Homo sapiens: one gene and its partners. The protein of the gene in region 7 purifies or fractionates together with the protein of the main gene of each other region. This does not show direct contact. Each region holds a gene or a part of one and is shown on either strand. Other genes may lie near its edges.

What was found.
Region 1: the proteins of ANKRD36B (region 7) and TTK purify together in Homo sapiens (affinity purification with mass spectrometry; one large-scale study listed by BioGRID and IntAct). This does not show direct contact.
Region 2: the proteins of ANKRD36B (region 7) and VLDLR purify together in Homo sapiens (affinity purification with mass spectrometry; one large-scale study listed by BioGRID and IntAct). This does not show direct contact.
Region 3: the proteins of ANKRD36B (region 7) and CCDC66 purify together in Homo sapiens (affinity purification with mass spectrometry; one large-scale study listed by BioGRID and IntAct). This does not show direct contact.
Region 4: the proteins of ANKRD36B (region 7) and PER3 purify together in Homo sapiens (co-immunoprecipitation; one large-scale study listed by IntAct). This does not show direct contact.
Region 5: the proteins of ANKRD36B (region 7) and CHD9 purify together in Homo sapiens (affinity purification with mass spectrometry; one large-scale study listed by BioGRID and IntAct). This does not show direct contact.
Region 6: the proteins of ANKRD36B (region 7) and GULP1 purify together in Homo sapiens (affinity purification with mass spectrometry; one large-scale study listed by BioGRID and IntAct). This does not show direct contact.

What each region holds. Positions count from the first base shown.
Region 1 is NC_000006.12:80,020,949-80,025,500, forward strand, and holds part of TTK (dual specificity protein kinase TTK), read left to right. Parts: intron 1-1,375; coding exon 1,376-1,524; intron 1,525-4,552.
Region 2 is NC_000009.12:2,620,104-2,625,211, forward strand, and holds the start of VLDLR (very low-density lipoprotein receptor isoform a precursor), read left to right. Parts: upstream 1-1,683; 5' UTR 1,684-2,086; coding exon 2,087-2,168; exon of another isoform or gene 2,169-2,270; intron 2,271-5,108. UniProt on the Homo sapiens protein: Multifunctional cell surface receptor that binds VLDL and transports it into cells by endocytosis and therefore plays an important role in energy metabolism.
Region 3 is NC_000003.12:56,619,256-56,622,337, forward strand, and holds the end of CCDC66 (coiled-coil domain-containing protein 66), read left to right. Parts: intron 1-15; coding exon 16-272; intron 273-521; coding exon 522-646; intron 647-876; exon of another isoform or gene 877-2,276; coding exon 2,277-2,363; 3' UTR 2,364-2,582; downstream 2,583-3,082. UniProt on the Homo sapiens protein: Microtubule-binding protein required for ciliogenesis. May function in ciliogenesis by mediating the transport of proteins like BBS4 to the cilium, but also through the organization of the centriolar satellites.
Region 4 is NC_000001.11:7,786,798-7,791,349, forward strand, and holds part of PER3 (period circadian protein homolog 3), read left to right. Parts: coding exon 1-39; intron 40-400; exon of another isoform or gene 401-449; intron 450-1,247; coding exon 1,248-1,449; intron 1,450-4,552. UniProt on the Homo sapiens protein: Originally described as a core component of the circadian clock.
Region 5 is NC_000016.10:53,302,357-53,306,908, forward strand, and holds part of CHD9 (chromodomain-helicase-DNA-binding protein 9), read left to right. Parts: intron 1-1,363; coding exon 1,364-2,269; intron 2,270-3,877; coding exon of another isoform or gene 3,878-3,880; coding exon 3,881-4,041; intron 4,042-4,552. UniProt on the Homo sapiens protein: Probable ATP-dependent chromatin-remodeling factor. Acts as a transcriptional coactivator for PPARA and possibly other nuclear receptors. Has DNA-dependent ATPase activity and binds to A/T-rich DNA.
Region 6 is NC_000002.12:188,567,211-188,571,762, forward strand, and holds part of GULP1 (PTB domain-containing engulfment adapter protein 1), read left to right. Parts: intron 1-2,028; coding exon 2,029-2,145; intron 2,146-2,409; coding exon of another isoform or gene 2,410-2,433; intron 2,434-2,817; coding exon 2,818-2,910; intron 2,911-4,552. UniProt on the Homo sapiens protein: May function as an adapter protein. Required for efficient phagocytosis of apoptotic cells. Modulates cellular glycosphingolipid and cholesterol transport. May play a role in the internalization and endosomal trafficking of various LRP1 ligands, such as PSAP.
Region 7 is NC_000002.12:97,579,438-97,583,989, reverse strand, and holds part of ANKRD36B (ankyrin repeat domain-containing protein 36B), read left to right. Parts: intron 1-3,421; coding exon 3,422-3,528; intron 3,529-4,552.

The DNA of each region.
Region 1 (4,552 bases), on a different chromosome or scaffold from region 7:
TCCTGAGATCTTGTCTCAAATCCAGACAGCACTGCAGAGTGACCTGCATTGGGTCCAGATGGCAAAGAGACCCAAATGGCACCACAGATGACCTATACTAGGTCCAGATAACTAGAAAGTGCAGATGGCTAAGATGGAGGATTTCCCAGTACACTCTGGTTAATTTATCCAACCCTTGAATTCTGTTGACCTCCAAGATGCCACTTCCCTTTCACTAACTGAGTGTTACAGCAGCTGATGCCACAAAGGGAAGGGAAGGAAAAATCCTTCAGACAAGGGTGGTCTCCCTAGCTGCTGGGAGTTCCTTAAGGTCCCAGCTGCAGGGTCAGCTAGCCATGAGCAGCTGGCATTTGCAAGTGGCTCCTGCGTTGGCCTGGTAGCCTGAGTGGGTGAGCCTTGGCCTGCTCCCACAGCCAATTGCTCCACTTGTTGGAAACCAGGCGTACAGGCTGAGCCCCTCAAAACACACAGTTCCTCACACAGGGCACCACATTTGTAACTGACTCAAGTCCGGCTCTTCACAACACAGAGGCCAAAAACATGAGAAGTGAGGTGTGGTGGAAGGAAAACAGTTTTATTAATCAAATGCTAGCAGCTGGGGACTGGCCAGGCTCATGCCCTCAAAAGACCATTTCAACTTTTTGGGCTGAGTGAAGGGGTTTAAAAAGGAAAAGGTGTGGAAGAGATGCAGGAGTGGTGCAGGTCTGAATGTCTTGTTGTGATAGTTATATTGAGTAATTGCCCATCTGGAGGTATGGTTTGTGTCATCTTGACTTCAGCTGGGTAATGCTAGGCTAACTGTTCGAAACTCCCCCCATGCAAGAGGAGTCTGCAACTCCATCTCTGCTTGGTTTGTTTCAAAACTGGCCCCTGAAATTTCTAAGCAAGTACGTAATTAGATAAGTGAACACTGTTCATGGACATGCCTGGTGGGAAAGGGAGAAACTAAGGGTTTCAAAGTATGCTTCCAGGCTGAAAGCAAAAAGGAAAAAAAAATGTTCTAAATTGCATTTTGAGGGTTGGATACTCGGTCTATGAAAAGTGATGAATTAGCTTCTCTATTAGTAAGACTTTATAACATCTATATGTTTTTAAATTTTTACTTATTTATTGGTAAAGAAGCATTTAAATGTGGCAAGGTCTCTGACAAAGTTCTTAGTAACAATGTAGGAAGATGACTATAGTGCAACTTTGTGAAATTGACTTGCTAAAAGCAAATTGTTAAGCAGCTGGCTTAAAGCTTTTAGTTTCTCTCCCTCCTTGATTGTTTTTAAGAACTAAATACTCATATAGTTTGTAATATGTTCTGTTGTTTAGGCTTAGTTTATTATGATCAAATATTCTTGCTTTTTAATGACAACAAATACAATTTCAGAAACTAAAGAGTATCAAGAACCAGAGGTTCCAGAGAGTAACCAGAAACAGTGGCAATCTAAGAGAAAGTCAGAGTGTATTAACCAGAATCCTGCTGCATCTTCAAATCACTGGCAGATTCCGGAGTTAGCCCGAAAAGTTAATACAGAGGTAACTTTTCCACTAAAGTACAATATTGCTTTTTTGTTCATAATGCATTTCCGAAGGTTGATGATCATATTAAATGTTTTCTTTTATTAAATGTGTATGATATTTAGTAGAATAGTTTATTTAAAGGTTTTTAAAATCATTTATAAAGTGGTGATCAGTAGCAGTCATACGTTCAGTAAGTCAGGCTAAATTATTTTCTATCTTCGATAGTGTTTCTAGATTGCCGATAGACTGGTGCTATGGGCCAAATCTAGTTCTTAGCCTGATTGTGTAAATAAAGACTTACTGGAACACTGACACACTCATTCATTTAATGTCTATGGCTGCTTTTGCATTATAAGAGCAGAGTTGATTAGTTGTATTAGAGACCACTTGGCCTGCAAAGTTTAAAATGTTTACTATCTGGTCCTTTACCGAAAACTGTATGCTGATCTCTGAACTAGCGCAGTGCTGTCCCAAGCACTTAACAGTTTCCTGTGGTCATACTCATTGATAAAAATAGAAAAATATAGCCTAGACAACGTACATGAATTTGTAACATACTGAGTCATCATTCCTGGTGGCTTTTCGGAAGGAATGATCAAGTAGGATACTAAAGAGCTATAGCTGCAGTTCATGGCCATAGTTTCCTTACCATTTCTTTTCAGTGACTTGTAGTAAATATAGTAAAGGCTTTATTAATTCAGTGGTTCTCAAACATTTGGCCTTTTATACTCTTAATTATCAGTGCCCCTAAAGAGCTTTTGTTTATGTTGATTATATCTATCTCTATTTACTATATTAGGAAGTAAAGCCAAGAAACTTTAAAAATGTTTATTAATTTATTAAAAATAACTGAGGGCTGGGCACGATGGCTCACGCCTGTAATCCCAGCACTTTGGGAGGCCAAGGCGGGCAGATCACGAGGTCAGGAGATCGAGACCATCTTGGCTAACATGGTGAAACCCTGTCTCTACTAAAAATACAAAAAATTAGCCGGGTGTGGTGGTGGGCGCCTGTAGTCCCAGCTACTTGGGAGGCTGAGGCAGGAGAATGGTGTGAACCCAGGAGGCGGAGCTTGCAGTGAGCAGATATCATGCCACTGCACTCCGGCCTGGGTGACAGAGCGAGACTCTGTCTCAAAAAAAATAAAATGAAATAAAATAACTGATAAACTCATGTGAATATAAATGTACTTTTATGAAAAATATGTATTTTCTGAAACAAAATAACTACAGTGGGAAGAGTAGCACTGTGTTAGAGTTTTTACAAATCTAATGATTGGCTTAACAGAAGACTAGATTCTTATGTCTGCTTTTGCATTCAATGTATTTCATTATTACATGTCATACAGTCTCTGGAAAACTCCTTATATACTCATGAGAAAATAAAAGTGAGAAAGGTAAATATTGTCATAGTAAGATCTCTTAAGTAGTAGATGTAGATAACAAATGCTAGATGATAAGGATCCTGATAGGTTGAGTCATAGATTGTATCAAACCAGCATCTCCTCTTTTTTTTCTATTTGAAAATTGTACACTAATAGGATTGTAAGGGAACTGAAAACCATATGGATCATTAAAGAAATGCAAAGCAAAACCATAATTAGATACTACTTCACACCCACTAGGACGGCTGTAATTCAAGAGACAATAACAAGTGTTGGCAAGGATGTGGAGAATTTTAGAACCTTCATATGCTGCTAGTGGGAATGTAAAATGGTGCAGTCATTTTGGATAAGAGTCTGGGAGTTCTTCAAAAGGTTAAACGTAGCTTTATATGATCCAATAATTCCACTCCTAGGTTTGTAGTTAAGAGAATTGAAAACATACATCCACACAAATATTTGTACATAAATATTCATAGCAGCATTTTCATAATTGCCAAAAAGTGGAAATAACAAAATATCCAACCGATGAATGGATAAAGAAAATGTGGTACATCCATACAATGGAATGTTAATCAACAATAAACAGTAATGAAGTACTAGTACATGTTACAACATAAGTGAACATTTACAACGTGCTAAGTGAAAGAAGCTCACCACAAAAGCCCATATATTTTATGATCCCATTTAGATAAAATGGTCAGAATAGGCAAATCCATAGAGGTGGAAAGTAGATTAGTGGTTGCCAGGGGCTGGGAGCAGTGGGGAGTGGGGAGTGATTGCTAATGGGTGTGAGTTTTCTTTTTAGAAGACGAAAATATTCTAAAATTGGATTGTGGTGATGGTTGCACAGCTGTGAACCACTGAGCAACTAAAAACCATTGAATAGTACACGTAGAAAGAAAAAGTATAGAATCTAGGCAGTTTCTTGTGGATACTGCTTGTCCAGCAGTCCCTTCAAGGGAGGATTGTTTTTGTCTCACATCTCACTTACCATATGGCTGTGTGCTCTCTGTTCTGTGTCCAGACCATTTCTTCCTCTTTCTTGCAAAAGGCCTGCTCTTTTGATACTTCTGACTTACTCTCATCTCTGAATGTCCTGGTAACTCCCCATCATTCCTTGAAGATACAAGGCTCTGGATCAACCAGATCCCAACAACTGTCATTGTTTTTGTTGGCTTCTACACCCCTGTGTATTACCAGTCCTACAGCTGGCCTTCATTTTTCTAACTTCTTCGTGTCTCATGACCATTTCCTTAATTTTACTTTAGCCACCTACTCCTTATATCCTCAATTCTGACCTCCAAAATCGCAGATGCTAACATTCCACTCTATGATCGTGATCTTTTTCATTTTCCTTGTTCATTAATCTTATTACAGCAGTTCCTCAGTAACATCTTTACCACTAATCTTAAAATATGTGCGTGCTTGTACGTGAGCACAGACACACGAAGTCTTAAATGAGAGGGAAAATTTATCCTGGAAAAAAAATTTCTTGGCCAAGACTGAAATGTAGAAAGTAGGATAGATTTAGTCATTGTAATTCTCAAGTGCGTAATGAGGACCAGTGTGTTGAAATTATAATAGATAAACCAATATAATCCAAATTATCTGCAAATATTTTCTAATAACTAAAGCTGTCCTGAAATTGAAGTGAACCTC
Region 2 (5,108 bases), on a different chromosome or scaffold from region 7:
ACATCTCAATGCCATTAGGTGAATAACACCGGCATGCATCTTCACTACTAAATGTCATACAAACAAATTTCAGTTGTTTCACATGCAACCTGTGTGGCTGCTGCAGTTTGTATCAACTATGTAACCACAGGGTGGGCAAAATAGCATTCAAAATGAGCTATAGTGCAAGATACCATCCATACGTAGAGTTAAGCCCTTTCATGCTTAGCAGTCACAATCAGGATATCTTTGGCCCACAGAAACCTATCCTGACTGGAATTTTCCTCTCCTGTGTGTCTCCTGGATATAGTAAGTTCCTAATAAACATCTCCTCTGATTGCTAGCCTTGACAAATTTCCAGGAGAACCAGGGCAAGGAGAAGACAGTGAGGCAGTGCCCGCTGCTCTTCAGATCACCAACAGAATAGAGTCAGAATATGATATTATTGAAACCTTCCAAGTTTGAATTAAGATAAAAACAACTTTTTCAAAATACCAAAAACCTTTTATTTAAGAAAGTGAAATCGCTCGATGTGCCCTCCCACTCTGGTTAGATGCTCAACAGACCACAGCAGACAATGCACCTCAACCAGGGCTAAGTGTGCAAGAAAACTGAAGTACACAAAAAGCAAATTATAGACTCAGGTACTGTCAGGCACAAAAGAAGAACCAACCCTTTCTAGGAGTCTTGTCTTTGCTTCCTTTATTCTTTCCTCGATTCTTGTAATTGAATGTTACAAAGTATATCAAGAGGAATAAACGTATGGGGCCCCTCTCTTCCAAACAAGAAAAGGTTAAGCTTTTAATTACAGGCCCTCAAACTATCATTTTGTGCAATTAGCAATTAACTATAATCGTTGATGAGCAAATGCAAAGCTGCGCTAGCAATTTCCCTTCTCCTCATCCCAGGCTGGGTTATTTCAGTCTTGTTCTATTACAGAGGACCAGCCACAACCGCGCGCACTCTCTTTCAAACATACACACTCTCTCACTTAAAGACACATTTAGTTTTCGGCAAAACGGCATCTCAGCGTGCGATTGAGACCGGCATCCCAAACCCCACTTTTGAGCAGCCCAAACGTTTGGAGCCCCTCCGCTTCATCACTTTCTGAGTGGATAGAGGAGGCCCGAAGAAGATGCTACCTACCAGCCTCTCTCAGGGGCGCAGGAGAGGGTGGTAGAGAGATGCTTGTTGCCCCTGGAAACTGCAAGTACCCCCCAGGTGCACGCCCCGTCAGTGGGGAGGCGGTGGCAACAGCAACGATAGTTGCATCAGCGCTAACTGCTGCTGCTGCTGCGTGTTCTGCCGGAGGCTGCCGGGAGGGTACAGTAATGACTGTAGGGAGCGCACAGCCGCTGCGGCGGCAGGTTCCCTGGATCAGGAAATTAGGACAGGCACCCGGGATTGGAGGCGAGGGCGGCGCGCGAGCCAACCAGCGGTCGCCCCGGGCCCCCGTGAGCCCCAGGCGAACGCGCGGAGCAGCCGGGCCCCTAGAGCGGTCCGGGTGGCGGCGGCGGCAGCCACGACCACGACCGCGGTCACTCACGCACGCTCACACTCGCACGCTCCCCGCGCGGGCACCCGGCTGCCCGGCGCGTGCAAGAGGAGCGCGTCGAGGGAAAGGAGGGCCGAAGCCGCCGCGCTCCCGCCCGCCCGCCGCGCCTCCCGTTGACCACGCCCCCTCCGGCCCCCTCCCCGCTGCTCACCCCGCTCTCCGGCCGCCGCCGGTGCGGGTGCTCCGCTACCGGCTCCTCTCCGTTCTGTGCTCTCTTCTGCTCTCGGCTCCCCACCCCCTCTCCCTTCCCTCCTCTCCCCTTGCCTCCCCTCCTCTGCAGCGCCTGCATTATTTTCTGCCCGCAGGCTCGGCTTGCACTGCTGCTGCAGCCCGGGGAGGTGGCTGGGTGGGTGGGGAGGAGACTGTGCAAGTTGTAGGGGAGGGGGTGCCCTCTTCTTCCCCGCTCCCTTCCCCCGCCAACTCCTTCCCCTCCTTCTCCCCCTTTCCCCTCCCCGCCCCCACCTTCTTCCTCCTTTCGGAAGGACTGGTAACTTGTCGTGCGGAGCGAACGGCGGCGGCGGCGGCGGCGGCGGCACCATCCAGGCGGGCACCATGGGCACGTCCGCGCTCTGGGCGCTCTGGCTGCTGCTCGCGCTGTGCTGGGCGCCCCGGGAGAGCGGCGCCACCGGAACCGGTGAGTGAGGACGCGCCCCTCCGCCGGCGGGCGGGACCCAGCCGGGGCACCGGGAGACCCCGAGGCGTAGGTCTCCGTTTGCCCACCCGCCTCCTAGGAGGCGCCTCTCGGTTCTCCTCGCCTTCCCTCCCTCCCCTCCGTGGTGGCGCCTCTGAGCTGTCAGCGCCGAGGCTAAAGGGAGCCGGGCTTGGGGAACAGCGGGGTTCGGGGTGCCCCGACGCCTCGCCTGAACTAGTCTTCTGCCCCTCACTCCGCCTCCCCCAGAGCCGCTGCTTCGCCTCGTTTCTCGCCCTCTTGACGGGCGCCGAGGTGCGTGGGCTTCTGAGCATTGAACAATGGTTCTGCCTCCTCTGCCAGGCGCAGTGTTGGGAAGGAGGCAGAGGGCCAAGACGTGTGCGGCAGCCTCGGGCGCACCCTCGAACCCCGGGGAGTGCGGGAGCGGACGGGGGGAGAAGGTGAGCGCCTCCGGGGACGCGGAGCGCCAGGGGCCGGCCGGGCTTCAGAGTCTTCCGGCGGCCGCGAGCTGGCGCACGTTCGGTGGGCGGCGGCCGGGAGGCTCCGCGGAGCCGAGGGCACCCGGACTGCGACTCCCCCGGCGCGGGGCCGCCTCTCCGGCGTGCGGGGTAGGGGAGCGGCGGGGCTTTACGCAGGACTCTGCTCTGGGCGCTTCTCCTCTCCCTTTTCCCCGCCTCGGGCGGCGTTTGGAAACCGCTCGGGTCTCCCGTGTAGCTGAACGCGGAGGGGGAGTGGAGGGGAGACTTAATCAGGTTAGTTTGCTGACCCTCCTTCCCGGTGACGTTTCCTCGAGAGGAATTGAGTCCTAGGCTAGTGACTGTAATTAGCCTTCATTCTACACAATAGCTCAAAGGAGCAGCGCGAGAGCGAGCGTGTGGCCCTGTCTTGTTGGGAAGGGCGGCGGTGACTACTGTCGGGTCCCCAGACTCTGCCGCGGGGGCCTGGGGGCCCCGCCTGGTCGTCAGCCACGTTCCCACTTGGGGCCTCGTAACTTTCCTGGACAGGCGACAGGAAGCCTTTCTGAGAGGACTCAGTCGGAATCCTAGCGCGTCCCCGAAGTGATCTTCAGATGTGACGCCGAGGGGCTTGCTTGCCAGCTGCAGGGAATTGGGACTGAAAGCCGCCCAGGCCCTTAACACCCGTTCCAGAGTCCCTGGCTCCCGTCGCCGGGTGGCTTCAGGGGCCCTGCCGGCCTGCAGTCACGTGCTCCTGAAGTGAGAGCGAACTTTAAAGCATGTGGTCAAGGAGCCTGTCGGGCAGCGCCTGGGGTTTTTACGTCTCCGAATGCCCCTGCCCTTTGGTTGCCACTGTCCGGAGCGTGTGAACTGGGACTGGCCTTTCCGCCCTCTGCGATTGGTTAGCGGTGCGATCACGTTTAGGTTGGTCACATGGTTCCGCGGACTCTTAAGTGGGCAGCATGGGCAGTGTTATTTTCAATGGAAAGTAGGAGACTCCACAGGCTCTTACGGGCTGTTCTCTCAAATGCCTTCCCCTGCCTGGACTCTTTGAAGAGGACGAATGTGTAGTGAACATGGAATCTGATGTGTAACAAGCCTGAGAGCCTAGAAAAGCTCTGCTTACAAGAGTTTCCAAACGCTAGCATTAATCATTAATAGATGAGTAATACTAACTTATTAAACGATTTCTCAGTATAGTGCCATGACTTGCATTATGCCTTTTGTAACATTTCAAAACGCTAAGGTATACCAGAAGGAGGGACAATTATCCAGGAAGGTGAGAGAAAAGTTTCGTTTTTGCTGCATGTCCCTTCCACTAGAGGTTAACTTTACCTTATAGAATGCTAGGAATGCACCTAAACTACTGACATGAGTTAGTCAAAGCCAGATGTTCACCTTGTATTGGGCAGGTGAGGATCCTTTTCACTTTGTCACATGTGAAATATTTGACATGCCATGAACAATGGAAAAACAAATTCTTCAAAGGAGAGGAAGCAGATTCTTCCAGAACTGGAGGAAATTTGGGCTGAGGCAGTTATTGACCCTAAACCAATCCCAACCGGCATCTGTCTTAAGTTCAAAGTCTCAGGGCATGTGGGCTGACTTTCTACCCTGGAGCTTCTACACATACCCCTTCTGTCCACTGGCACATGGTGCTGTTCCACAATACTCCTGGACAAGACAGGTGAACACTGAGACTCTGGCAAGGAACTTAAGGCTAACAAGAAGTTGGTATACCTGATTGCACAATTCCTGGGGGTTCTGGGACATTTTCCTTCAGCCTAAGTAGTCAAGATTAAGATCTGTGGTATGATATATTCTTTAAGGCCAGAGTCTAAAAGAACCAAGGTTTTTTGAGAGCTATTCATATATGGCTAGCAACTAGCCTAAGAATAGAAAGAAAATTCCCTCATTGTGAGAAGTGGGTTGGTGGTACTGGTGGTAGTAATAGACCTGGAGGTAGGAAACTGGTTGGCATGGAAAGTAAACTTGGCTCATCCAGATAGCACCAATGAAGGTATGACGATGATAGTACCCCTTATCAAAGACTGATCACTCATGTGAGCAGGGACTGCGTAAAGGAAGGTCACCAGCCAAGCCCTCCTTGGCAGTAACAGCTTCATGAAATCCAGTGTAGCTTTGTTCCCTGGATCACCCTCTTGCCCACTTTATGTGGCATTTACCTATAGTGCCTGTCCTGTGTCATTTTGATTGTTTGCTTTTATGGCCTGAGTCCCCAGATACTTAAAGCATGTATAAAGGTCAAGTAGAGCTGCCAAATATTAAGACTTTAGTACAATAGACTGCTATTTAACACTAAACATTGCTAGCAAAGGTGACAGTCTCCATGCTCAAAAGAAGTGAAGACCTGATCCAAGTGTCTCTACCTGTCATAAAATTGAATAACCGTAAACTTGACTTGAGTAGTTTCATTACAGTTTTGGAAGAGGAAAAAAGTTGTTACAAG
Region 3 (3,082 bases), on a different chromosome or scaffold from region 7:
TTTTTTTTTAAATAGGTCTCCATCATCACCAGTTCCAGTAGTGAAAAACAGAACCCAACAAACTCAAAATACATTACATTTACCACTAAAAAACAGTAGCTATGAGAGAGAGAATTTGATCTCAGGAAGTAATCAAACAGAATTATCATCTGGGATTTCTGAATCATCCCATTTTATTCCGTATGTTCGAACAAATGAGATCTATTACCTTGATCCCGATGCACCATTGTCTGGGCCTTCAACCCAGGACCCTCAGTACCAAAATTCACAAGGTAAGTAAATATTAAGCATTCTAACTGTAAAAATTGAAGACCCATGTAAACCCCGTCAACAACTTTAAATTCCAAATTAGTAATTCCTGCACTTAGTTCTATAAAGTTTCTTGAATATGTCTTAAATTTTTCTTAGTACTTTCCTAGGATACATACTTATTATAATGACTCCTGACAATATTATATAGCACAGGGCTATGTCATTTTACTAATGTAATTGACTGACTTGTTACTTTCATCTGGCTTTAGACTGTGGCCAAAAACGACAGCTATTTGATTCTGACTGTGTCAGGGATCCACTTCTTAATCCTAACATGGTGAAAAATAGGGATCGACAGCAAGCAATCCTTAAGGGACTTTCAGAACTGAGACAGGTATGAGCTTTTTCAAGTGTAGATATGTCTGTTCTTTATGTGGCGTGGGCGGTTGGGGGAACCTGTTGAACGGTTTGTTTTAAGTTACTTCGGTGCATCCCAGGATTTAACAAAAATATTTCAGTTCCTGTATGTTTGTTAGACACAAATAAAATGGGACTTTCCTAAGACTTGCTTTTACACTGCCGTCTTTGAGTAGTTCTTTCCAGTACGAAATCATCAGACAGTTCTAAAATTAAGACAAGTTTATTGAGTAAAAAAATGCATACATTGGAACGGCAAAACATCAATAAGGCCCTAAAACAAAAAATACAGTTATGCTTTAACAAATTCTTAGCAATGTGGCCCACGCTTTTTAAAAAATTGACGTGTTGGCAGTGTTTGTTAGAACATTGACGTACATCCCAAATAGTAATAAATTCAGTATGAAATTATACGCATAACCTTACTCACCATACTACTTTTTCTCCCAAACTATTGTGACTTCTTTTTGCTCTCTGATTAAAACAAACAGGTAACATCCTTACACCTTTGCTCCATCCCTTGGGCTTTAAAAAGAATGGCTGTAGTTAGTTTTGATTCACTATATACTCTCTGTACTTGAGGAAGAGTAAGCTGTGTTTAAAAGTGCCCTTTTCCATGTCGTCATGTACCAATACCCTCTGCATTTCAAAATGTTGACTCAGATGTTTTTCCCTCTACAGAACTAGAAAATTGTCCCCCCACTTTGGTCTATTTACTCATTTGAAGACAAACAGGGTTACTAAGAGTTTTACATAAGTTATTTCTTTAGAGTGACGAAGTGTTAGTTTACTTCTTGCTTAGTGGAGACAAAAATTGTGAGATAAAGAGGAAGGAATAGGATGTACACATTTACCCATCAATATAGCACCCAGTGTTATTTCAGCAGGACCCTTCTGTTAGCATCTAAGGTAAGGTTAGGACAGTCAAGATAAAATACTGGATGTTGGCCAGGAGCAGTGGCTCAAGCCTGTAATCCCAGCACTTTGGGAGGCTGAGGCAGGCAGATCATGAGGTCAGGAGATCAAGACCATCCTGGCTAACACAGTGAAACCCTGTCTCTACTAAAAATACAAAAAGTTAGTTAGTTAGTTAGCCAGGCGTGGTGGTGGGTGCCTGTAGTCCCAGCCATTCGGGAGGTTGAGGCAGGAGAATGGTGTGAACCTGGGAGGCAGAGCTTGCAGTGAGATTGCACCACTGTACTCCAGCTTGGGCGACAGAGCGAGACTCCATCTCCAAAAAAAAACAAAACAACAACAACAAAAAAAAAACACTGTATGTTAAGGGAGACTCCTTCAGTATCTAAGAGCACTTGGGGGTGGACTGGGGGAGAAGGGATGACTTCATTTACCCCCATAGTTATGGAGTCTTGAGTTCTAAGAAAATTTTCATCCCTATTGATTTTTATGCTAAAAACAGAATCTTACAAATGTGATAGCTATATATCCAAATGAGGTGGTCTAGTACAAGCATTTCTGAAAAAATTTTTGAATGACAAAATTTTATCCTAAGCGATATGTTTTCCAAGTGAATATAATTCTAGTTTAACACAACATTGCAAGTCAGGTGTGCACATTTTACTAACAAACATATATCAATGTGATTTCAGGGCCTTCTCCAGAAGCAAAAGGAGTTGGAAAGTAGTCTCCTGCCTTTAGCTGAAAATCAAGAAGAGAGTTTTGGTTCTTCATTTTAAATGTAGAAAATCAAATCCTTCACATTTGATTTGTGTCTTCCAAATTATAAAATGTGCTCACTGGCTCAACTGTATTTTTCAAATAGCCTAGATTTACTTATTTTTTTAAATGCTCATTAAAAACTTGTATACTATGTAGTAAAATGCTGTACTTGTTCTATACAATAAAACAGATACTTCTTTTGTAAAAGCTTAGTAGTAAAAAAAAAAAAAAAAAAACCGGTTCTTCTGCTCTGTCACCACCTGGGTATTGAAGCCCTATAAAAACACTTTCTACTTACCTTAATATAGTCTGGCGTTGCTGGGACCTCACAGTGTTCTTTCACACTTTTTATGTAACTTAGGAACTGAAATACCACTCATGCATTTGTTCTAAAGTGCCAAAGTTCTGTCTAACTTATTAACACGTCTAGACCCATAACTCCATAACTTTTACTGAAATAACACAAATTCAGTTTAGGCTCCTTCTCTAAATCCTGACATTTATTTGCACTATGACATTTATTTGTAGAAATTGCAATTTTCAAAAACATTTTTAAAAGTTAGCATTAGTAACAAGTTAGTAATTAGTATTAGAGGCAGTAGTTAGGAATAGATACGGGTTTGAAAGCTATCTCCACTGTATCTGTCTAGTATAGCATTAATGTGTTCAACAAATGGTAATTACTACTAAGACCACCTCAAAAATATATTCCCATTATACTTCCATTTTGCTAAAA
Region 4 (4,552 bases), on a different chromosome or scaffold from region 7:
CTGGCCACTATCGCTTCAGAACACACTTCCAAAAACACAGTAAGAATTCATGCATTTTGCCATATCAACCTGGGTGACTTTTCCTAAGGGCCTGCTCTAGATGTAGGCTTTTAAGAAGGATAACAACGTTTCAGCAACCACAATTTGAGAGAAGCAAAGGAGGAACTGCTAAAGAGGCATGGTGTAGCTTCTCCGCCCTTGCCAGAGAAAACATCTAAAAGCAGAAGCAGCCCGTTCTGTGTGCTGTGCAGCTCAGTGACTTTGGTTATGAGGTGCTTCTAGCTCCTTAGCATTCCCAAGCTCTCTTGAATTAAGAGAAAACAAAAATTACACTGCAGAGTAATTTCCTGCACCTTATTCTAATCTCCGAATTGTTAATTTCTATTTATATCATTCTTAGTTCCAATACCTACTACTTCAAGTTGTAACAACTGGATGTTATAGAACAGGTGAGTTGAGATGCTGTCATTTTTCCTAAAATTTTGGAAGAGACCTTTAGTATATCTTTTTTAATCTCTCTTCTTGTTTGACAGAGTAATCTTCATGTTTGGTTGATACGGTGGAGATTACTTATTTTAAGTAACATAATTGTTACTTAAAGATTTTGTAATAGTGGAACGTGCGCAATCCCTAGTATTATAACAGTGCTTATTTTATGGACTGGTGTGTACATAGTACTGTAGGAGGTGCTATGGAGATTTTTAAAAATAGCTTAAGAAAATATTTGTCTTTTAAGATATTTAAAATAAAGCTAGAGAGGAAAGTATGCCAATGCTAGCAAACACAAACTGCTGATTATAAATAAGTTTCATTTATGTGTAATGGAAAAAATTAGAGCAGTGATGCTTATGTAATGAGGTTTGTCAAGGACAGCTTCTTGAAGAAGGTGAATCTTCAGTGTGTCTTAAAGCATAGAATCTGCGTTGATGACGAGAACACCGTCCACCCAGGTGTATGGCACAGTTTGCAGAGAAGTTATGTGCCATACGTATTTTAGTCTGCATAGAATAAGCTAGTATATTTTTTGGCATAGAAATTGAACCTTCAGTAGGTGAAGTGCAGGTCTTAGGAGAAGATTTAAGAAGCATGTTGGAGAAAATTATTTGAGGAGTTTTGTTGCATTTGTAGGTTGTGCCTGTGTATTTTAAGATACTGGTCATGTTAGAGATCCAGAAGAAATTTACCTTTCAGGGAATATTGCTAGTGAGTATCTCAATATTTGCATTTATTTTAAATGTTTTTCATAGGATACCTTTGTGGCAGTATTTTCATTTCTGTCTGGAAGGTTAGTGCACATTTCTGAACAGGCTGCTTTGATCCTGAATCGTAAGAAAGATGTCCTGGCGTCTTCTCACTTTGTTGACCTGCTTGCACCTCAAGACATGAGGGTATTCTACGCGCACACTGCCAGAGCTCAGCTTCCTTTCTGGAACAACTGGACCCAAAGAGGTAACAGGACCAATGTTCAGATGTCTATCTTTCCTCATCAAGATCAGTTTCATTCTTACAGGAATAGTACAGAAATTAACATATTATTTAGAACATGCACACTATCTGGTTTTTCTTATTCCTGTTATAGAAAGTCACGTGATGAAAACAGCATTTTAAAAGCTTCTGATAACATACTCAATACGTTTGTTTCCATTTTGTCACATCTGTTTCACAGATGATATGTCATAAATATTATTTCATTACCAGCGTATTGTATAGTGGTTTAGTTGCTATGAAGGCTCTGTTTCCTTTAAGTTAAAATTAAATGTTTTTCCTCCTTCATGATTTCCTTGTATGAGAAATTTTACTTTGGAGATAAAATTTGGATCATTAGGCTGGGCAAGGTGGCTCACGCCTGTAATCCCAGCACTTTGGGAGGTTGAGGCAGGTGGATCACCTGAGGTCAGGAGTTCCAGACCAGCCTGGCCAACATGGTAAAACCCCATCTGTACTAAAAGTACAAAAATTAGTCAGGCATGGTAGTGCATGCCTGTAATCCCAGCTACTCAGGAGGTTGAGGCACGAGAAGCACTTGAACCCGGGAGACAGAGGTTGCAGTGAGCCAAGATCACACCATTGCACTCCAGCCTGGGCGACAAGCGTGAAACTGTTTCTGGGGAAAAAAAAAAAAAAAAATTCAGATCATTAGCTCTCTTACAGTTTTTCTTGCCCCTGAAACTTATGAGTCTTATTACTTTGTTTTCCTTCTGGAATGCTTTTCTTTCATAATTCAAAGATGCCTATTGCAGTTTTCTTTGTGACATTCAGTCCTGTGTGATCTTAATTTATTTCTTTTTAGTCATCCTTCATTATTTTATATTCTTTGTGAAGTGTCTCTTAAAGAGCTTTAAAATATATATATATATATATCAGCGTTCTCTTTGATTCCAAGCCCTTCTCTCTAATTAAAAAAAAAATTCATTGTAGTAAAAAACACATACAGTTTACTATCTGATATAGTTTGGCTGTGTCCCCACCCAAATCTCATGTTGAATTGTAACTCCCACAATTCCCATGTGTCGTGGGAGGAACCCAGTGGGAGATAATTGCATCATGAGGGCGTCTTTCCCATGCTGTTCTCGTGATAGTGGATAAGTCTCATGAGATCTGATTGCTTTAAAAATGGGAGTTTCTCTGCACAAGCTCTCTCTCTTTGCCTGCTGCCGTCCATGTAAGATGTAACTTGCCCCTCCTTGCCTTCTGCCGTGATTGTGAGGCTTCCTCAGCCACGTGGAACTGTAAGTCCGTTAAACCTCTTTCTTTTGTAAATTGCCCAATCTTGGGTCTGTCTTTATCAGCAGCATGCAAACGGACCTAATACACCATCTTAATCATTTTTAGGCATTCACTCCATTGCTGTGAAGGATGTTTACATTGTTGTGAAACAGATCTCCATAACTTTTTCATCTTTATATCTGAAATTCTATCTACTATTTCTAATTTTTTACCCAGTAGTTAATTTAATGAAGGGTAGCTTTGCGTGTTTCTTCTTCCAATTATAGATTGCCCCATCTTTTAAAAATATTTTTACATAAGCTCTAGAAAACATGCATGTCATCCCTGCTTGCTTCTAGCTCATCTCTTTTCCCATCTTTCAAAAATACTGATTTTATTTCTCATCCCCTTTCCTAAATACACATTTTCAACCTTTGTCTGTATTTGTTTCTCTGCTTTTGTTAGCTGTTCATTCCGTAAACATTTATTTAATAATCACGTGGGTCAAGAACTAGTCCGGATACAGATACAGCTGTGAACAGGACATACACAATATTGTCTGCCAGGTCTTTCCCATTTTTTCCCCAGGTATTTTTCCTTCAGCACTGCCTGTGGCTTTTCAGCCTTTTCATTTTTGCTGATTACTGATTACTGCGATATTTCCCTTCTGTATTAGTCCATTCTTACGCTGCTATAAAGAACTATCTGAGACTGGGTAATTAATAAAGGAAAGAAGTTTAATTGACTCACAGTTCCACATGACTGGGGAGGCCTCAGGAAACTTACAATCATGGCAGAAGGGGAAGCAAACATGTCTTTCTACACATGATGGCAGGAAGGAGAAGAATGGGAGCCGAGTGAAGGAGGAAGCCCTTTATAAAGCCATCAGATCTCTTGAGAACTTACTATCATGAGAACAGCATGGGGGAAACTGCCCCCATGATTCAATTACCTCCCTCCGGGTTCCTCCCACCACACATGGGGATTATGGGAACTATAATTCAAGATGAGATTTGGGTGGGGATACAGCCAAACCATATCATTCTGCTCTTAAGCCCTCCCAAATCTCACGTCCTCACATTTCAAAATGCAATCATGCTTTTCCAACAGTCCCCCAAAGTCTTAGCTCATTCCAGCATTAGACCAAAAGTCCAAGTCCAAAGTCTCATATGTGACAAAGCAAGTCCCTTTCACCTATGAGCCTGTAAAATCCAAAGCAAGTTAGTTATCTCCTAGGTACAATAGACGTACAAGCATTGGGTAAATACACCCATTTCAAATGGGAGAAATTGGCCAAAACAAAGGGGCTACAGGCCCCTTGCAAGTCTGAAATCCACTGAAGCAATAATTAAATATTAAAGCTCCAAAATAATCTCCTTTGACTCCATGTCTCACATCCAGGTCATGCTGGTGCAAGAGGTGGGCTCCTACAGCCTTGGGCAGCTCTGCCCTTGTGGCTTTGCAGGGTACAGCCTCCCTTATGGCTGGTTTCATGGGCTGGCATTGAGTGTCTGTGGCTTTTCTGGGCTCACAGTGCAAGCTTTTGGTGGATCTACCATTCTTAGGTCTGGAGGATGGTGGCCCTCTTCTCACAGCTCCACTAGGCAGTGCCCCAGTGAAGACTGTGTGGGCTCCGAACCCAAATTTCCCTTACACATCTCTCTTAGCAGAGGTTCTCTATGAGGGCTCCGCCCCTGTAGCAAACTTCTGCCTGGACATCCAGGCATTTCCGTACATCCTCTGAAATCTAGGCAGAGGTTTCCAAACCTCAGTTCTTGTCTTCTGCACACCTGCAGGACCAACACCATATGGAAGCTGCCAAGGAATAGGGCTTGCACCCTCTGAA
Region 5 (4,552 bases), on a different chromosome or scaffold from region 7:
GTTGTTACATGACTGGATTGAGGTCATGCATTTTTGGCAAGAGTGCCACAGAAATGATGTGTTCTCAGAATGTAATATCAAGGGATTGGAGATGTCAGTATGTCTTATTACTGATGATGTTGACTTTAATTGTGTGGTTAAGGTAGTTTATGCTGCATTTGGCCAGTGTAAAATTACTGTAATTAACAAATATCTTAAGCTTCACAAATCTTGTTTCTTCTCAAACTTTCACCCATTGATTTTTAGTATCTGCCAGATACTAAATCTTGTCTACAACAGTTTTTTCTGTGGAATTCTGCTGTAAGAAAGGATGTTTCATTCTCTCTCATCTATTTAATCAGTTATTTATTCATATCAGTATGGATTCATGGGTATTTATTCTATAGGTTACAATCCAATATTGTCTTTATTTATTGCTCAGATTGTTCCATATTTGGCATTAGGAGCTGCTTATGTTGGTCCCTGCATTGTTTCAGCAAGCCCATGTTTCTTGAGTACTTCCCAAGTGTCAGTAACCCACTTTTGCAAAGGCATAACCTTATCAGAGGTATGAGGTAGCATGAGTTCATGTTGAAACTGAACTATCTCAAGCTAGTAATTTGTGCAGTGTTTGAAAGATGTGGCTGTGTTTCCCTAGAAATTTGAGAAAGCCCTTGTTGCCCCTGTGAGTTCACTCCAATGTCCTCTTACCTTTTGCAGTTTGAGATATGCCAGCTTACATTTGTTTATGGAGTATCACTTAACACAAGCTTGTCCAACCTGTGGCCCAGGACAGCTTTGAATGCGGCCCATCACAAATTCGTAAACTTTCTTAAAATATTATGAGTTTTTTTTTTTTTTTTGCAATTTTTTTAAGCTCATCAGCTATCGTTAGTGTTAGTGTATTTTATATGTGGCCCAATACAATTCCTCTTACAATGCAGCCCAGGGAAGCCAAAAGATTGGACAACCCTGAACACTTCTAATTTATAAGTGAGTTTGAGCAAGTGTTTGTGTTATTAAGACAAATGTTATTAAATGCATCGCTCATAGGGAATTTCTTAAAATTCCCAGTTCTATTAATGTACTTCCAAAATAATCTTATGTTTTACATTAACATCCAGTATTTTATGTTACATGATTTTTAGTACTTACTTTTAAAACTTTCTCCTTTTTAAAGCTTTTACTGAAATTTCAAAATTTCAAAATCCTCACTGAATTTCTCCTCACTGAAAAGAAATTCTGGAAACTATACAGTGATATTGCATGGAGGCACATTTTAGAAATGGTATTGTTATAAATATATAAAGATGTATTTATAATGATTTATTTATAAATAAAGGATTTTTGAGATTAATATTTTTGTCCTTGTTTCAATATGTAGAATTGGTGGATCCAAATATTTTTATCCAGCCCATCACAGAAGAACGTGCTTCTAGGACTTTGTATCGCATTGAACTTCTAAGGAAAGTACGGGAACAGGCCCTTCGACATCCACAGTTGTTTGAACGCTTGAAGCTTTGCCATCCAAATCCAGATTTACCAGTCTGGTGGGAATGTGGCCCTCATGATAGGGATTTGCTTATTGGTGCTGCCAAACACGGGGTGAGCCGAACAGACTATCACATTCTTCGTGATCCTGAACTCTCATTTATGGCAGCTCAGAGGAACTACAGTCAAAGTAAGATGGCTCATTCAAGGACTTCTACCCCACTTCTACAGCAATATCAAGTAGCACTTTCTGCTTCTCCTCTTACCTCTCTACCTAGGCTCCTAGATGCTAAAGGTATTATTCTAGAGGAGATGAAAGTTAAAAGTGAAAACCTTAAAGAGGAGCCTCAGTCTTCTGAAGAAGAATCTATGTCTTCTGTGGAAACCAGGACACTAATAAAATCTGAGCCTGTAAGTCCAAAGAATGGTGTTTTACCACAGGCTACTGGAGACCAGAAATCTGGTGGAAAATGTGAAACAGACAGACGCATGGTTGCAGCCAGAACAGAACCCCTAACTCCAAACCCAGCTTCTAAGAAACCAAGAGTCCACAAAAGGGGATCAGAATCTAGTTCTGATTCTGACTCAGATTCTGAGAGATCATCTTGTTCTTCCAGATCATCTTCTTCCTCATCATCCTCTTCTTGCTCCCACTCTCGATCAGGCTCTAGTTCTTCTTCATCTTCATCTTGTTCTTCAGCATCTTCTTCATCCTCTTCCTCCACCTCTTCCTCCTCCTCCTCCTCTTCATCTTCATCAGAAGAAAGTGACAGTGATGAAGAAGAAGCCCAAAAACGAGGTACTATGCATAAAATAATTCTACTTTTTTAACATAACTTTTCTTTTCTTTTCTTTTCTTTTCTTTTCTTTTTTTTTTTTTTTTTTGAGATGGAGTTTTGCTCTTGTTGCCCAGGCTGGAGTGCAATGGCGCAATCTCAGCTCACTTCAACCTCCACCTCCTGGGTTCAAGCGACTCTCCTGCCTCAGCCTCCCAAGTAGCTGGGATTACAGGCATGTGCCACCATGCCTGGCTAATTTTGTATTTTTAGTAGAGACGGGGTTTCTCCATGTTGGTCAGGCTGGTCTCAAACTCCCGACCTCAGGTGATCTACCCGCCTCAGCCTCCCAAAGTGCTGAGATTACAGGCATGAGCCACCAGGCCTGGCCTAATATAACTTTTCAAGTGAAAATGAAAAGAACTCGTTTCAGGTAACTTAAGGATGTTTAAAATTGTTTGCTTACAGTGTTTTTTTGAAACGGAGTCTCGCTCTGTCGCCCAGGCTGGAGTGCAATGGCACGATCTCAGCTCACTGCAACCTCTGTCTCCCAGGTTCAAGCGATTCTCCTGCCTCAGCCTCCTGAGTAGCTAGGATTACAGGCACCCACCACCATGTCCAGCTAATTTTTGTATTTTTGTAGAGACAGGGTTTCACCATGTTGGCCAGGCTGGTCTCGAACTCCTGACCTTAGGTGATCCGCCCGCCTTAGCCTCCCAAAGTGCTGGGATTACAGGCATAAGCCACCACACCTGGCCTGTTTGCTTAAGTTTTATATATACAAATGTTCTTAGGAAAGCACTATTGGGAAGAAAACTAGTTACTGATACAAATTCCCTGTTTAATATTCAAGGCATTACACAGTAGATTAATCAGGCAATTGAATTAGAAATTTTACACAGTAGTTTATTTGTGATTGTCTTAAATTGAATATTTTTCCCAGGAACAAGTTGATTAGTGAACAAGTAAAAGATAATATTATATAGCAGTCACCAAGAGTCTTAAGCTAATGAGAATATCATAAGCCATTTATTTGTCAGCCATGACAAATGCTTGTCAGCAGAACAGTGTTTGGTGGTCCCCTTCTGCAGGAACCCTTGCAGCAGTCCACCAGTTCAGGGGCAAGAAAATGAGTCCAATTAAACATGAGCAGGAGCTGGGGTCTCTTGTAACAACTCCATAGGCATAACTTTCGGGGTTGCCGCAAGAAACATGCCCAATTCTAAGAGTTACAAGAGTCACCTAATCAAGAGAATTATGGTATCCTCATCAGGTATTTATAGTTCTGCCAATCCAGATGAAGTCTACCAATCAGGAATCATTTTAAAAATAGTGAGTAATGAAGTCAGGCGTAGTGCACACCTGTAATCTGAGCTACTTGAGAAGCTGAGGCAGGAGTATTGCTTGAGCCCAGGAGTTCTGTCCAGGCTGTGCAACACAGCAAGACCCTGTCTCTTAATAATAATGATAGGTGCTTTTTTTATATTCTAGGTGATTTTTTCTCTTTTTTTATCATTTGTTTTTACTTCTAACATTTTCATTTTCAGGTGTTTCTGAATAATTATGTAAAATCCTTATATATAAAACTATTTTATGTAGTCTTTTTAAAAAATGATTATAATTGTTTTTAGCAGAAAGTACTACTCACATGAAAGCCTATGATGAAGAAAGCGTCGCGTCACTGAGCACTACCCAGGATGAGACTCAGGATAGTTTTCAGATGAACAATGGGACACCAGAGTCTGCTTATATCTTACAAGGTGGATATATGCTGGCAGCCTCGTATTGGCCAAAGGTAAAGAAATAATTTCTTATTGGGATAGGTCATTTTTTAGTATTTTTCTATATTGCTTCAATGGTAGATATTCTTACTATGTGGAAACATAGGTCAGCGTAAAATGTAGGATGACATTTTGGTGTTAGCTCCAAAAGTATAAATTACTGCTATCAAGTAAATAGTTCTGCTTTAATGTGTATGCTTCTCAACATAACTTTAGAATGTTTAGAATAAAAGATAATGAATCCTTACTTTCAAGTTAATCCTAAAGTGCTTCTTTATGAAACAGGTGCTTTTGACTGAGTCTCCTTGAAGAAGTTTACTGTAGCCAGTTGTGACCTAGAATGAAAAGTTCATTTAAATACATGTACATTCAGTGGAAGAAGAAAGATTGAATTAATACAGATTTTCTTCCTTTTTTTTTGAGTCTCACTCTGTCGCCCAAGCTGGCTTACAGTGGCACAATCTCAGCTCACTGCAACCTCCGCCTCCCAGGTTCATGCAGTTCACCTGCCTCAGCCTCCCAAGT
Region 6 (4,552 bases), about 91 Mb from region 7:
AAGACAGTGTGGCGATTCCTCAAGGATCTAGAACTAGAACTACCATTTGACCCAGAGATCTCATTACTGGGTATATACCCAAAGGAATACAAATCATGCTACTATAAAGACAAATGCACGCGTATGTTTATTGCAGCACTATTTCCAATAGCAAAGACTTGGAACCAACCCAAATGCCCATCAATGATAGATTGGATAAAGAAAAGGTGGTACATATATCCCATATCCCATGGAATACTCTGCAGCCATAAAAAGGAATGAGATAATGTCCTTTGCAGGGACATGGATGAAGCTGGAAGCTATCATCCTTAGCAAACTAACACAGGAACAGAAAACCAAACACCACATGTTCTCACCCAGAAGTGGGAGTTGAACAATGAGAACACATGGACACAGAGAGGGGAACAACACACACCAGGACCCATTAGGGGGTGGGAGGCGAGGGGAGGGAACTTAGAGGATGGGTCAATAGGTGCAGCAAACCACCATGGCACACGTATACTGTATAACTAACCTGCACATTCTGCACATGTATCCCATTTTGTTTTGGAAGAAATTTTTAAAAAGAAGAAGAAAAACGTCTTTTTATTGTAAAATAAACAGAAACCTATTACCCAAAGTTTTGAAATGAGAAACAGAAAACAAATTATTCATAATCCCACAATCTATCAAAACCACTTCTTTAATATTACAAATAATCTTAATATCTAACACAACCAATTAGTTTAAGTCAATGAACATGCATACATTGGTATCTGTCATTTTCATTTATTTGGTAGTTTTTATTATAGCTCGTTGTTTACTTTCTTGTCTTTTTTCTTTTCTTTTGTAAAACAGTCTTCCTTTAAAATATTATGTACATATTTTGCATTTTTTAGTTAACTAGGTTAAATACTATATTTTTGTCTAAAACCCTCCTTAAATAATGAACTATAAAAATTCTATTAAATGATATAAGATGATTAACAAAGCATGTTTTCATTTTATGTTGATCACAGTAGATAATAAATTATTAGAATTTGTAGTAGAGTTAAAGCATAGCATTTTCAATATATATTACTACTAGTCTTCTTGTTATCTGGAGGTCTTACTAAATATGACATAATTGTGACAACATTAAATCTTATTGATGCCTTTACCAAAATTCTTTATAATGTTGATTAAGTAAATAAATCTTTAGTCTTTACTATGTGCAAGACATTATGAATTCAGTGGAGATATGAATGGAGAAGAAATGAGCTTGTGGATGTAAGATATATTTGTGGCAGTTTCAAATCAATAGATCTGAGATTGTAAGTTGTTTACAAGCCCAAATTCAGATGACATATATATTTTGATCACTGGCACTGTGTTTTACCAAAATACAAACTGTTTACCATCGCTTAAAATTGGGAGCTCTCATATAAAATTTCAGACTTCTGGCCTCATCTTTCATACATAAGATCTGACAGTTTCAGATTGGAATTGCTCACTTCCACCAGGCAACAATTAACTGGGACAGAGTAGCAGGTGTTCCATTTAGAGGGCATACCTCAAGTTTTCCAGAGACACCACCTGGCCAGCCTCATTCAAGTTACCTGCTTAGGGTTTAACAAACCCTCCTCACAAGGAAAAGGAAATAAATAGCAAAGCAAGGAGAGAAACTACATTTGGCACTCTGCTTTCATTTCATAGGCACTAAATATTTGAGAAAGGGAGAAAAACAAGTAGGAAAAAACAATACAATAAAAGAGATGAGAAGTTTGACATAAAGAACTCTTGCTTCCAACTTTCCCACTTCAACAGCTATTCAGTAATACCCACCCCCAAGTCCGCTTGTTTTTTCAATGTTGTGCCTGGGTAGGTGTTGAGTTATTACATTAGCCTACTACCTTGCTCATTTAATACATCTCTACTCCCAACTGTTGCCCTTTTGAAGTACCTCTTGTGAATGTCTTGGAGTAAGTGCTTATATGAATGTTGTTTTCTCGATTCAAAAACAGTTTGACATATTATTAAAATGCAAATCTTTGTTTGATTTTTACACAGGCTGAAGAGATCACTTTAACAATTGGCCAAGCATTTGACCTGGCATACAGGAAATTTCTAGAATCAGGAGGAAAAGATGTTGAAACAAGAAAACAGATCGCAGGGTTACAAAAAAGAGTGAGTAAACTAAGCTTGTTGTTTTACATTTGTGTGATGTAAGTACAGGGAAACTTGCATATCGTCAAACAAATTTAGAAGCCCTGCCATTAAATTTCACCCACACTGACTGATTGGAACTGCTTTCACCGTGTTCCCATAATTTTTCGTTCCTGATCCCCTGCACAGTTTTTTTTTTTTAACTATTTTATATTGAATTCCCACAAGAACTTAGTGTTCTCATGTGACTTTGCTTCACTTCCTGATGCTTCTCATGGGGATCAGAGCAGCAGAAGCAGCAGATGCTGGGTAAGTGGTTTTCCATGCAGATCAGATTCCTTGGTAATTAAATTATGCCTTTCTCCACTCTTCAAAATCATCATAAGCAAGTTTCACTGTCTTGTGGTTATATTCCAAGATTATGGGTATAGATTGCACAGTCCAACAAGAAAACACAATGTTGAGATATTAGGAACATAAAATTTGCACACACATAAAAATATATTATAAATTTAAGTCTTTCAATGATCTAGAATCCTCCAGCATTTCCCAAGCTTTATCAAACAATTTTCTCCCCACGCACAACAAAGTACATTAAAGTTTTACGTAATATAAATTCCTACTCATAACTGTAGCCAATATTTTCCAAGAAAAAAAAAACAGAAAGTTATTCAATAATGATTTTCTTTTTAGATCCAAGACTTAGAAACAGAAAATATGGAACTTAAAAATAAAGTACAAGATTTGGAAAACCAACTGAGAATAACTCAAGTATCAGCACCTCCAGTGAGTATATTGAATATCCTTAGAAACAAGATTTTATGGTGATAAAACATCTGTGTATCACTAGTTCTGCAATATTTCATATAATACTTGGGGATCAGTAATTTCAAAGTAAACATGGATAGAGATGAAGGCTGCTAAGCAGTTTAATTTAAAACTTAAAATTACCTAGTCAGTTCAAATCAGAGTTGTTTTCTATGTTGCTGTTTTCCTCTGGGTTTTCTAACATAATTCAACCCTCAGGTTAGTCTTAAGTTTTATTACATAATATAATTTTTCTCTTTGTGGCATATTCTTCTTTTGTTTCTATTAATTACTATTTGCTGGGTTAGATTTAATGACCTATGCCAGTCTCCCCTTGAAGTGCTCAACTTCATTGTAGGAATTCAACTGTGAGCAAGACTGAACCTGGTTTCTTATATTACATGGTAAGGGTTCCCGCTGGGAGTGAGGCAATTGTATTTCAAACATTAAAATGAGTGGTATTCTCTGCAGACAAAACTCAAGTCTTTGTAGTTAAAATATTTATGTCTGACTTGTCACAGTTTTGAAATCCTTTTCCCAATACCATGTATGATATCATTATTACATGATTTTGGCAAAGGGAATTTATTGGAGGGAGGTGGAATTTAAAACAATATTTTTTCTAGGCAAAATATATTCAGGAAAAGATATTTTTCTGTTTGAATCATCTGTACTACTGATATTCTTTATTAAAGTGTATTTATTATTCTTCATTTAAAAATATTTAATATCTATGCCAAGCACAGTGGCTTATATCTGTAATCCCAACATTTTGGGAGGCCAAGGCAGGCAGATCATTTGAGCCCAGGGGTTCAAGACCAGTCTGGCAACATGGTGAAACCTTGTCTCTACAAAAAATACAAAAAATTATCCAGGCATATTGGCACACACCTGTAGTCTCAGCCACTGAGGAGGCTGAGGTAAGAGGATGGCATGAGCCCAGAGGTCATGGCTGCAGTGATCCATGATAGCACCACTCCACTGCAGCCTGGGTGACAGAGAAAGACTCTGTTTCAAAAAAAATTAATATCTAACTTATAACATAAACATGAACTGAAAAAAGAAATTTGTTGCAAAATTTTTTATGGAAGCTTATTGTGCTTCAATACGTAGGATAAACTCAATGAAAATGTTCATTTCTTAATATCTAATACTAGAATCATTCACAAGCTCATCACTATGAAAAAGGATGTTTCTATAGAAGTTTCATTTAGGGTTTCAAACTTGGCACACTCTGGAAATGGGTCAAAAAATGATTTTTCCTGTAAACTCACATTTTTCCACCTCCCATTTGAAAGAGTGAGTATTTCCATTGCTTGGCAGATGGTTTGTGCCAGTAGGGCTCCTATGGCCTTGATGAGAGAGGTTGGGACTGAGGTACCAATGTATCTATGCTGGAGCATCCTCTTCAGGTTCTGGTTTTATTCTGATATTCCTTCTTATTTTTTCTTGTCACTGTCTGCTGCTCACCAGGATTATGATTTTTTTCTTGCCTCTCTCGCTGCTAGGGACAGAACATCAGTTCAAACTCATTATTCAACCTTCCATCCCAAGATGGAACACACATCCTCTTGGGTTTTGTTGAAATTCATATTGTAAGCCATGTTGCGAAATATGCTAG
Region 7 (4,552 bases):
AAAGTAAATGAAGTCTTCAGTGAATGGCTCTATCTTTTGCTCTTTCCTCTTTTCGGCCAAATCCCAAACGATAAAGGGAATTTGCCACGTGGGTGAGAAATGAGACTGAAGTGATTATCAACTGTGCTGGTTCGCAGTTAGAATTGTGCATGGCAGTAACCTGGGGAAATTAAAAGCAAATCTCTAAGTCTAGGATATCCCCTGAAGATTTTAATATAGTAAATCTAATATTTACTATTAAATATTACTGGGCATGTATGTTTTAAAATATTTCCTTGAAGCTGGGCATGGTGGTGCCTCTAGCCAGAGCAACAGATTAAGACACTGCCTCTAACAGCAACAACACAACAACAACAACAACAATAAAACATTTCTTGGGACACTGATACGCTGCTGGTTAAGAACCACTGAATAGATAAGTGTAATATAAATTCCCATATCTCAAACACACAAAAAATCTCTAGAAGAGCTGGAGATAGGTGCTGCTTCCTTTAAATTTCTCCTTTCCAATAATATTGGCCTGACTTTTACCTGTCTCTACCTCTGTGGTTGGGAAGTGGAAAGGACTATTATTTGCAGTATCTATCAGCATAAGAATAACACCTTTTCTTTGCCACCATCACTTATTCACTGCCATTCATAGGGTCATTAGAAATTTGCTATTGTGGACTCTTTTAATAAGTAGAGACTGACTCTTTCAGGACTCTGAGTCTCTTTGTTATCATTCTGGTGATTAGGTCAATACATCATTATTAAAAGCGGGGTTCTCTCAATTACAATAGCAAAAAATTCTAAACCTTTTTTTAAAGCTGAAGCTCTATTATGGACTGCCTCAGTATGTCAGTTAAGTACATAGAACTGTGGCATAATCAGGATAGCAGTTTTAAACACTGAAAACCATGAAGTTAGTAAGAATACAAAGAATACATATAGGTCATTATTAGAGCTTTAATTGATAAGCCATTGTATTTTTATTTCTGATTTATATTTTACCTAAAATAAAAAAAATTAGGTTACAATATAGAAACTAGAATTATAATTTAATATTATTTTAATAATTTAGTTGCAGCAGTCCTATGAACTAATTATCCATTTGGTGAACAATCTGGGAAAATTAAACATAAATTATAAATGAATGAATGTTGTAAAAGTGCTCAAAGTGGGTATTATGACTCTTAGTAACAATTTTTATTGCATTCTTGGGCCTATTTTGGAAAAAAAATCTGAAACTAAAGAAAGGAAGTATTTTACATGAAAATACTTGCTTTACATACAATCGCTTGGAGACATATCCATAGCAAATATAAAAATACAAGGTATATAGTCCAAATGTGTCCCATACATGTGTTTAGTTTGCGTCTACAAATTGTCTCAACATGGAAGGTTTAGGAGACTCGTGCACAGATCTGGATTCCAAGCTTCTCTTCAAGAATCCAATCTGGTGTCCCTTGAGCCTATCTCAGGTTTTGGATGCTGTGCAGAGGTTGCCCCTTTCTATGAGGCATGTGGTCTCCATTTTGCTACTGTGCCTACCTAGGTACTTCACTTCCTCAGGTCATCTCCCTTGCCTCTGTAGGGATGACTTTACAAGCCCTGTTTTATAATATATTTTAGTAAATATTTCAAGGTTTTCAAGACATTTTATATTTATTTAAATGTAGAGTCTATATTTTATATAAATCCTTTGGTAATCGGGTTGAACTTTTGAATTTAGATGGTGGTGTTTTATAAACTATTTATACATACCATAAATAATCATCTTCCCATTAGAATGCATGTAAGCTTTTTAAGGTGAATCATGGTATAGTTGCATAGGTTATGCATATTGCAGACAACATTATATTTTTCTCTTCAGCATTGCCTCCTAAAAATGCAAGTAATTGGCCGAGCGCAGTGGCTCACGCCTGTAATCCTAGCACTTTGGGAGGCAGAGGCAGGTAGATCACGAGGTCAGAAGATTGAGACCATCCTGGCTAACACGGTGAAACCCCCTCTCTACTACAAATACAAAAAATTAGCTGGGTGTGGTGGCACACGCCTGTAGTCCCAGCTACTCGGGAGGCTGAGGCAGGAGAATTTCTCGTGCTTGAATCCGGGAGGCGGAGGTTGCAGTGAGCCGAGATGGCACCACTGCACTCCAGCCTGGGTGACAGAGCGAGACTCCATCTCAAATAAATAAATAAATAAATAAATAAATGATGCAAATAATTTAGTGGTTTTCATTATGCTATAAATAATTCATATAGGTCATTATTAGAGCTTTAATTGATAAGCCATTGTATTTTTATTTCTGATTGATATTTTACCTAAAATAAAATAAGTTAGGTAAGAATGAATTGGAAACTAGAATACAAATAGATTTTTAAAGGAGTTATGTACCAGGGTCCTAAGATTATAATTACATAAATATTTGCATCAGGGTCCTAAGATTGTAATTGAGAATAACATTTCATACAGAGCTTTCTGACAGCTAAGATAAAAATATTACTAGAGAAAACCCATGGACTATTTAATAATAAGCAGTGAAAGTTCACTCGAAGCCTATCTCTATTAATTCAGAGCCCGGCTCTCCGAATTAAAAAGAGATAGGCTTCAAATGAACTGTCAATCGTGTCAGAATCTCAGATGACAATGTCAGGTGCTCAGGTGCTCAGGAGCTCCTGACATTGTCACCTGAGATTCTCACACCATCGATAGAAGAGAATGAGGCAAGTGTGTATCACCCAGAGGAAACCTCTACCTTTACTGGTAAGCTCTCACAACTGTATCCCTGAAACTCTCATTTCTCAAATGTTAACATTCTCCAAAATAAGTATTTACAAATAGGGATTAGGTGAAGTTCAAAAGATTTCTCAAATACTAGACACATAATGCACAGTTTTGTAACATTTTTCAAACATGGGTGATCATGGAGTCTCTCTTTTGGGGTATAATGTTCAAATTCTGGTAAAGTAAATATCCTTTGGAATATATTAATAGTTTAAGAAACACCGCTCTATAGATAATAATTTAGATCATTAATAAAAATACCTGAAACATTTATTACTGTGTCTTAGAGTTTGAGGACATAGAGAAAAAAATACAGCTGCTGCCCTCAAGAAGCTCTTGGTTCAGGTGGGAAACAATTAAATCCTTGAAACATGCCATGCTAAATGCTGGGACAGAAGCAAAGATTCTTGGAACTGGGAAATGTTTGAAGTGAGTTTTGGAGATGACCAGAGTTCTTGTGGTGAGGCAGAGGAGGTTGTTTCCAGGGGAAGGAGCAGAACATAGAAAAGCACCGAGGAGGGAAAAGAAAGGGACTACCTCTTACGACCTTTCAATTGTATATATTGAAGCTCACAGGATCTTACATAAGGTTTTCATTTCAGTTGATAAATATGTAATTTTGTGATTATAAATTGTTGCTGTTATTTTACAGAATGAATATCAGCCACTGTTACTTGCTGTGAGTCGAAGAAAAGTGAAAATGGTGGAATTTTTATTAAAGAAAAAAGCAAATGTAAATGCCATTGATTATCTTGGCAGGTACAGACCTTAGTTCTTATTGTGTTGTTTTTAAACCTGAGTGTCATTTTAGAGTGGTAGCAGTCACTCAAGTCACAAATATTACATTAGTAAGAAGACTAACTTTTAATTACTGGGATATAGTGAGAAATATCAACACAGATCATCACTTAGGTAGAAAAACAATTATTTGGACTGAGTAACATAAAGAACAGTGTATAGCAGGATTCATCTCTCTCTATAGACATTATACACATAAAAGGCTTCTATATATAGAAAGCTCTGTATATTGATAGATGTTTGTTATTTGTAAGATGATGTGGTGTTATTTACAATGTAATAATGTGATGCTTTTGATTGTATGATCTTACATTAGCTAAAGGGGTTTCATGTTAGTTTTTCATTTCTACTGTGTTTTGATGTTGTTTTTAATTGATATGGGGAGGGGGAAAAAAGATAGCTTTAGATGGATAAAACTTTACTTCAATGAAGACAAGCTTTAGGTTCACACAGGACTGGGTTTAATCCCTAGCTTTCCCACTTGCTAGATGTGTGACCTTGGTAACATTACTTACCAAGTATGTTTTCTTCTGTGAAAAGGAGGGTAATAATATATCCTTCAAGGGTGGTTGTGTGTAAGTAACATTATATATATATAATGTTAGAATGTCCAGCTAACAGAGCAAGGTGCTGATGTTTTGGAAACAATGGCTGAGCATATAAGTATGTGCATATAATATATATACACACATATGTATGTAAGAATATAATGTAACTAACATCATATATAATATATAATATATACAATATATATTTATAGATAATATATAATATACTATATATTATATATTTTATAGATTATATATAATATACTATATATATTTTATATATATGTGATATTACTTATACACAACCACCCTTGAAGGATATATTATTATCCTCCATATATATATATATATAGTGTTTAATTAAATGCCTAGCACATGCTTATGAGCATCATTAACTGAAGCTATGACTACTACTATTAGCATTCCTATTAATATTA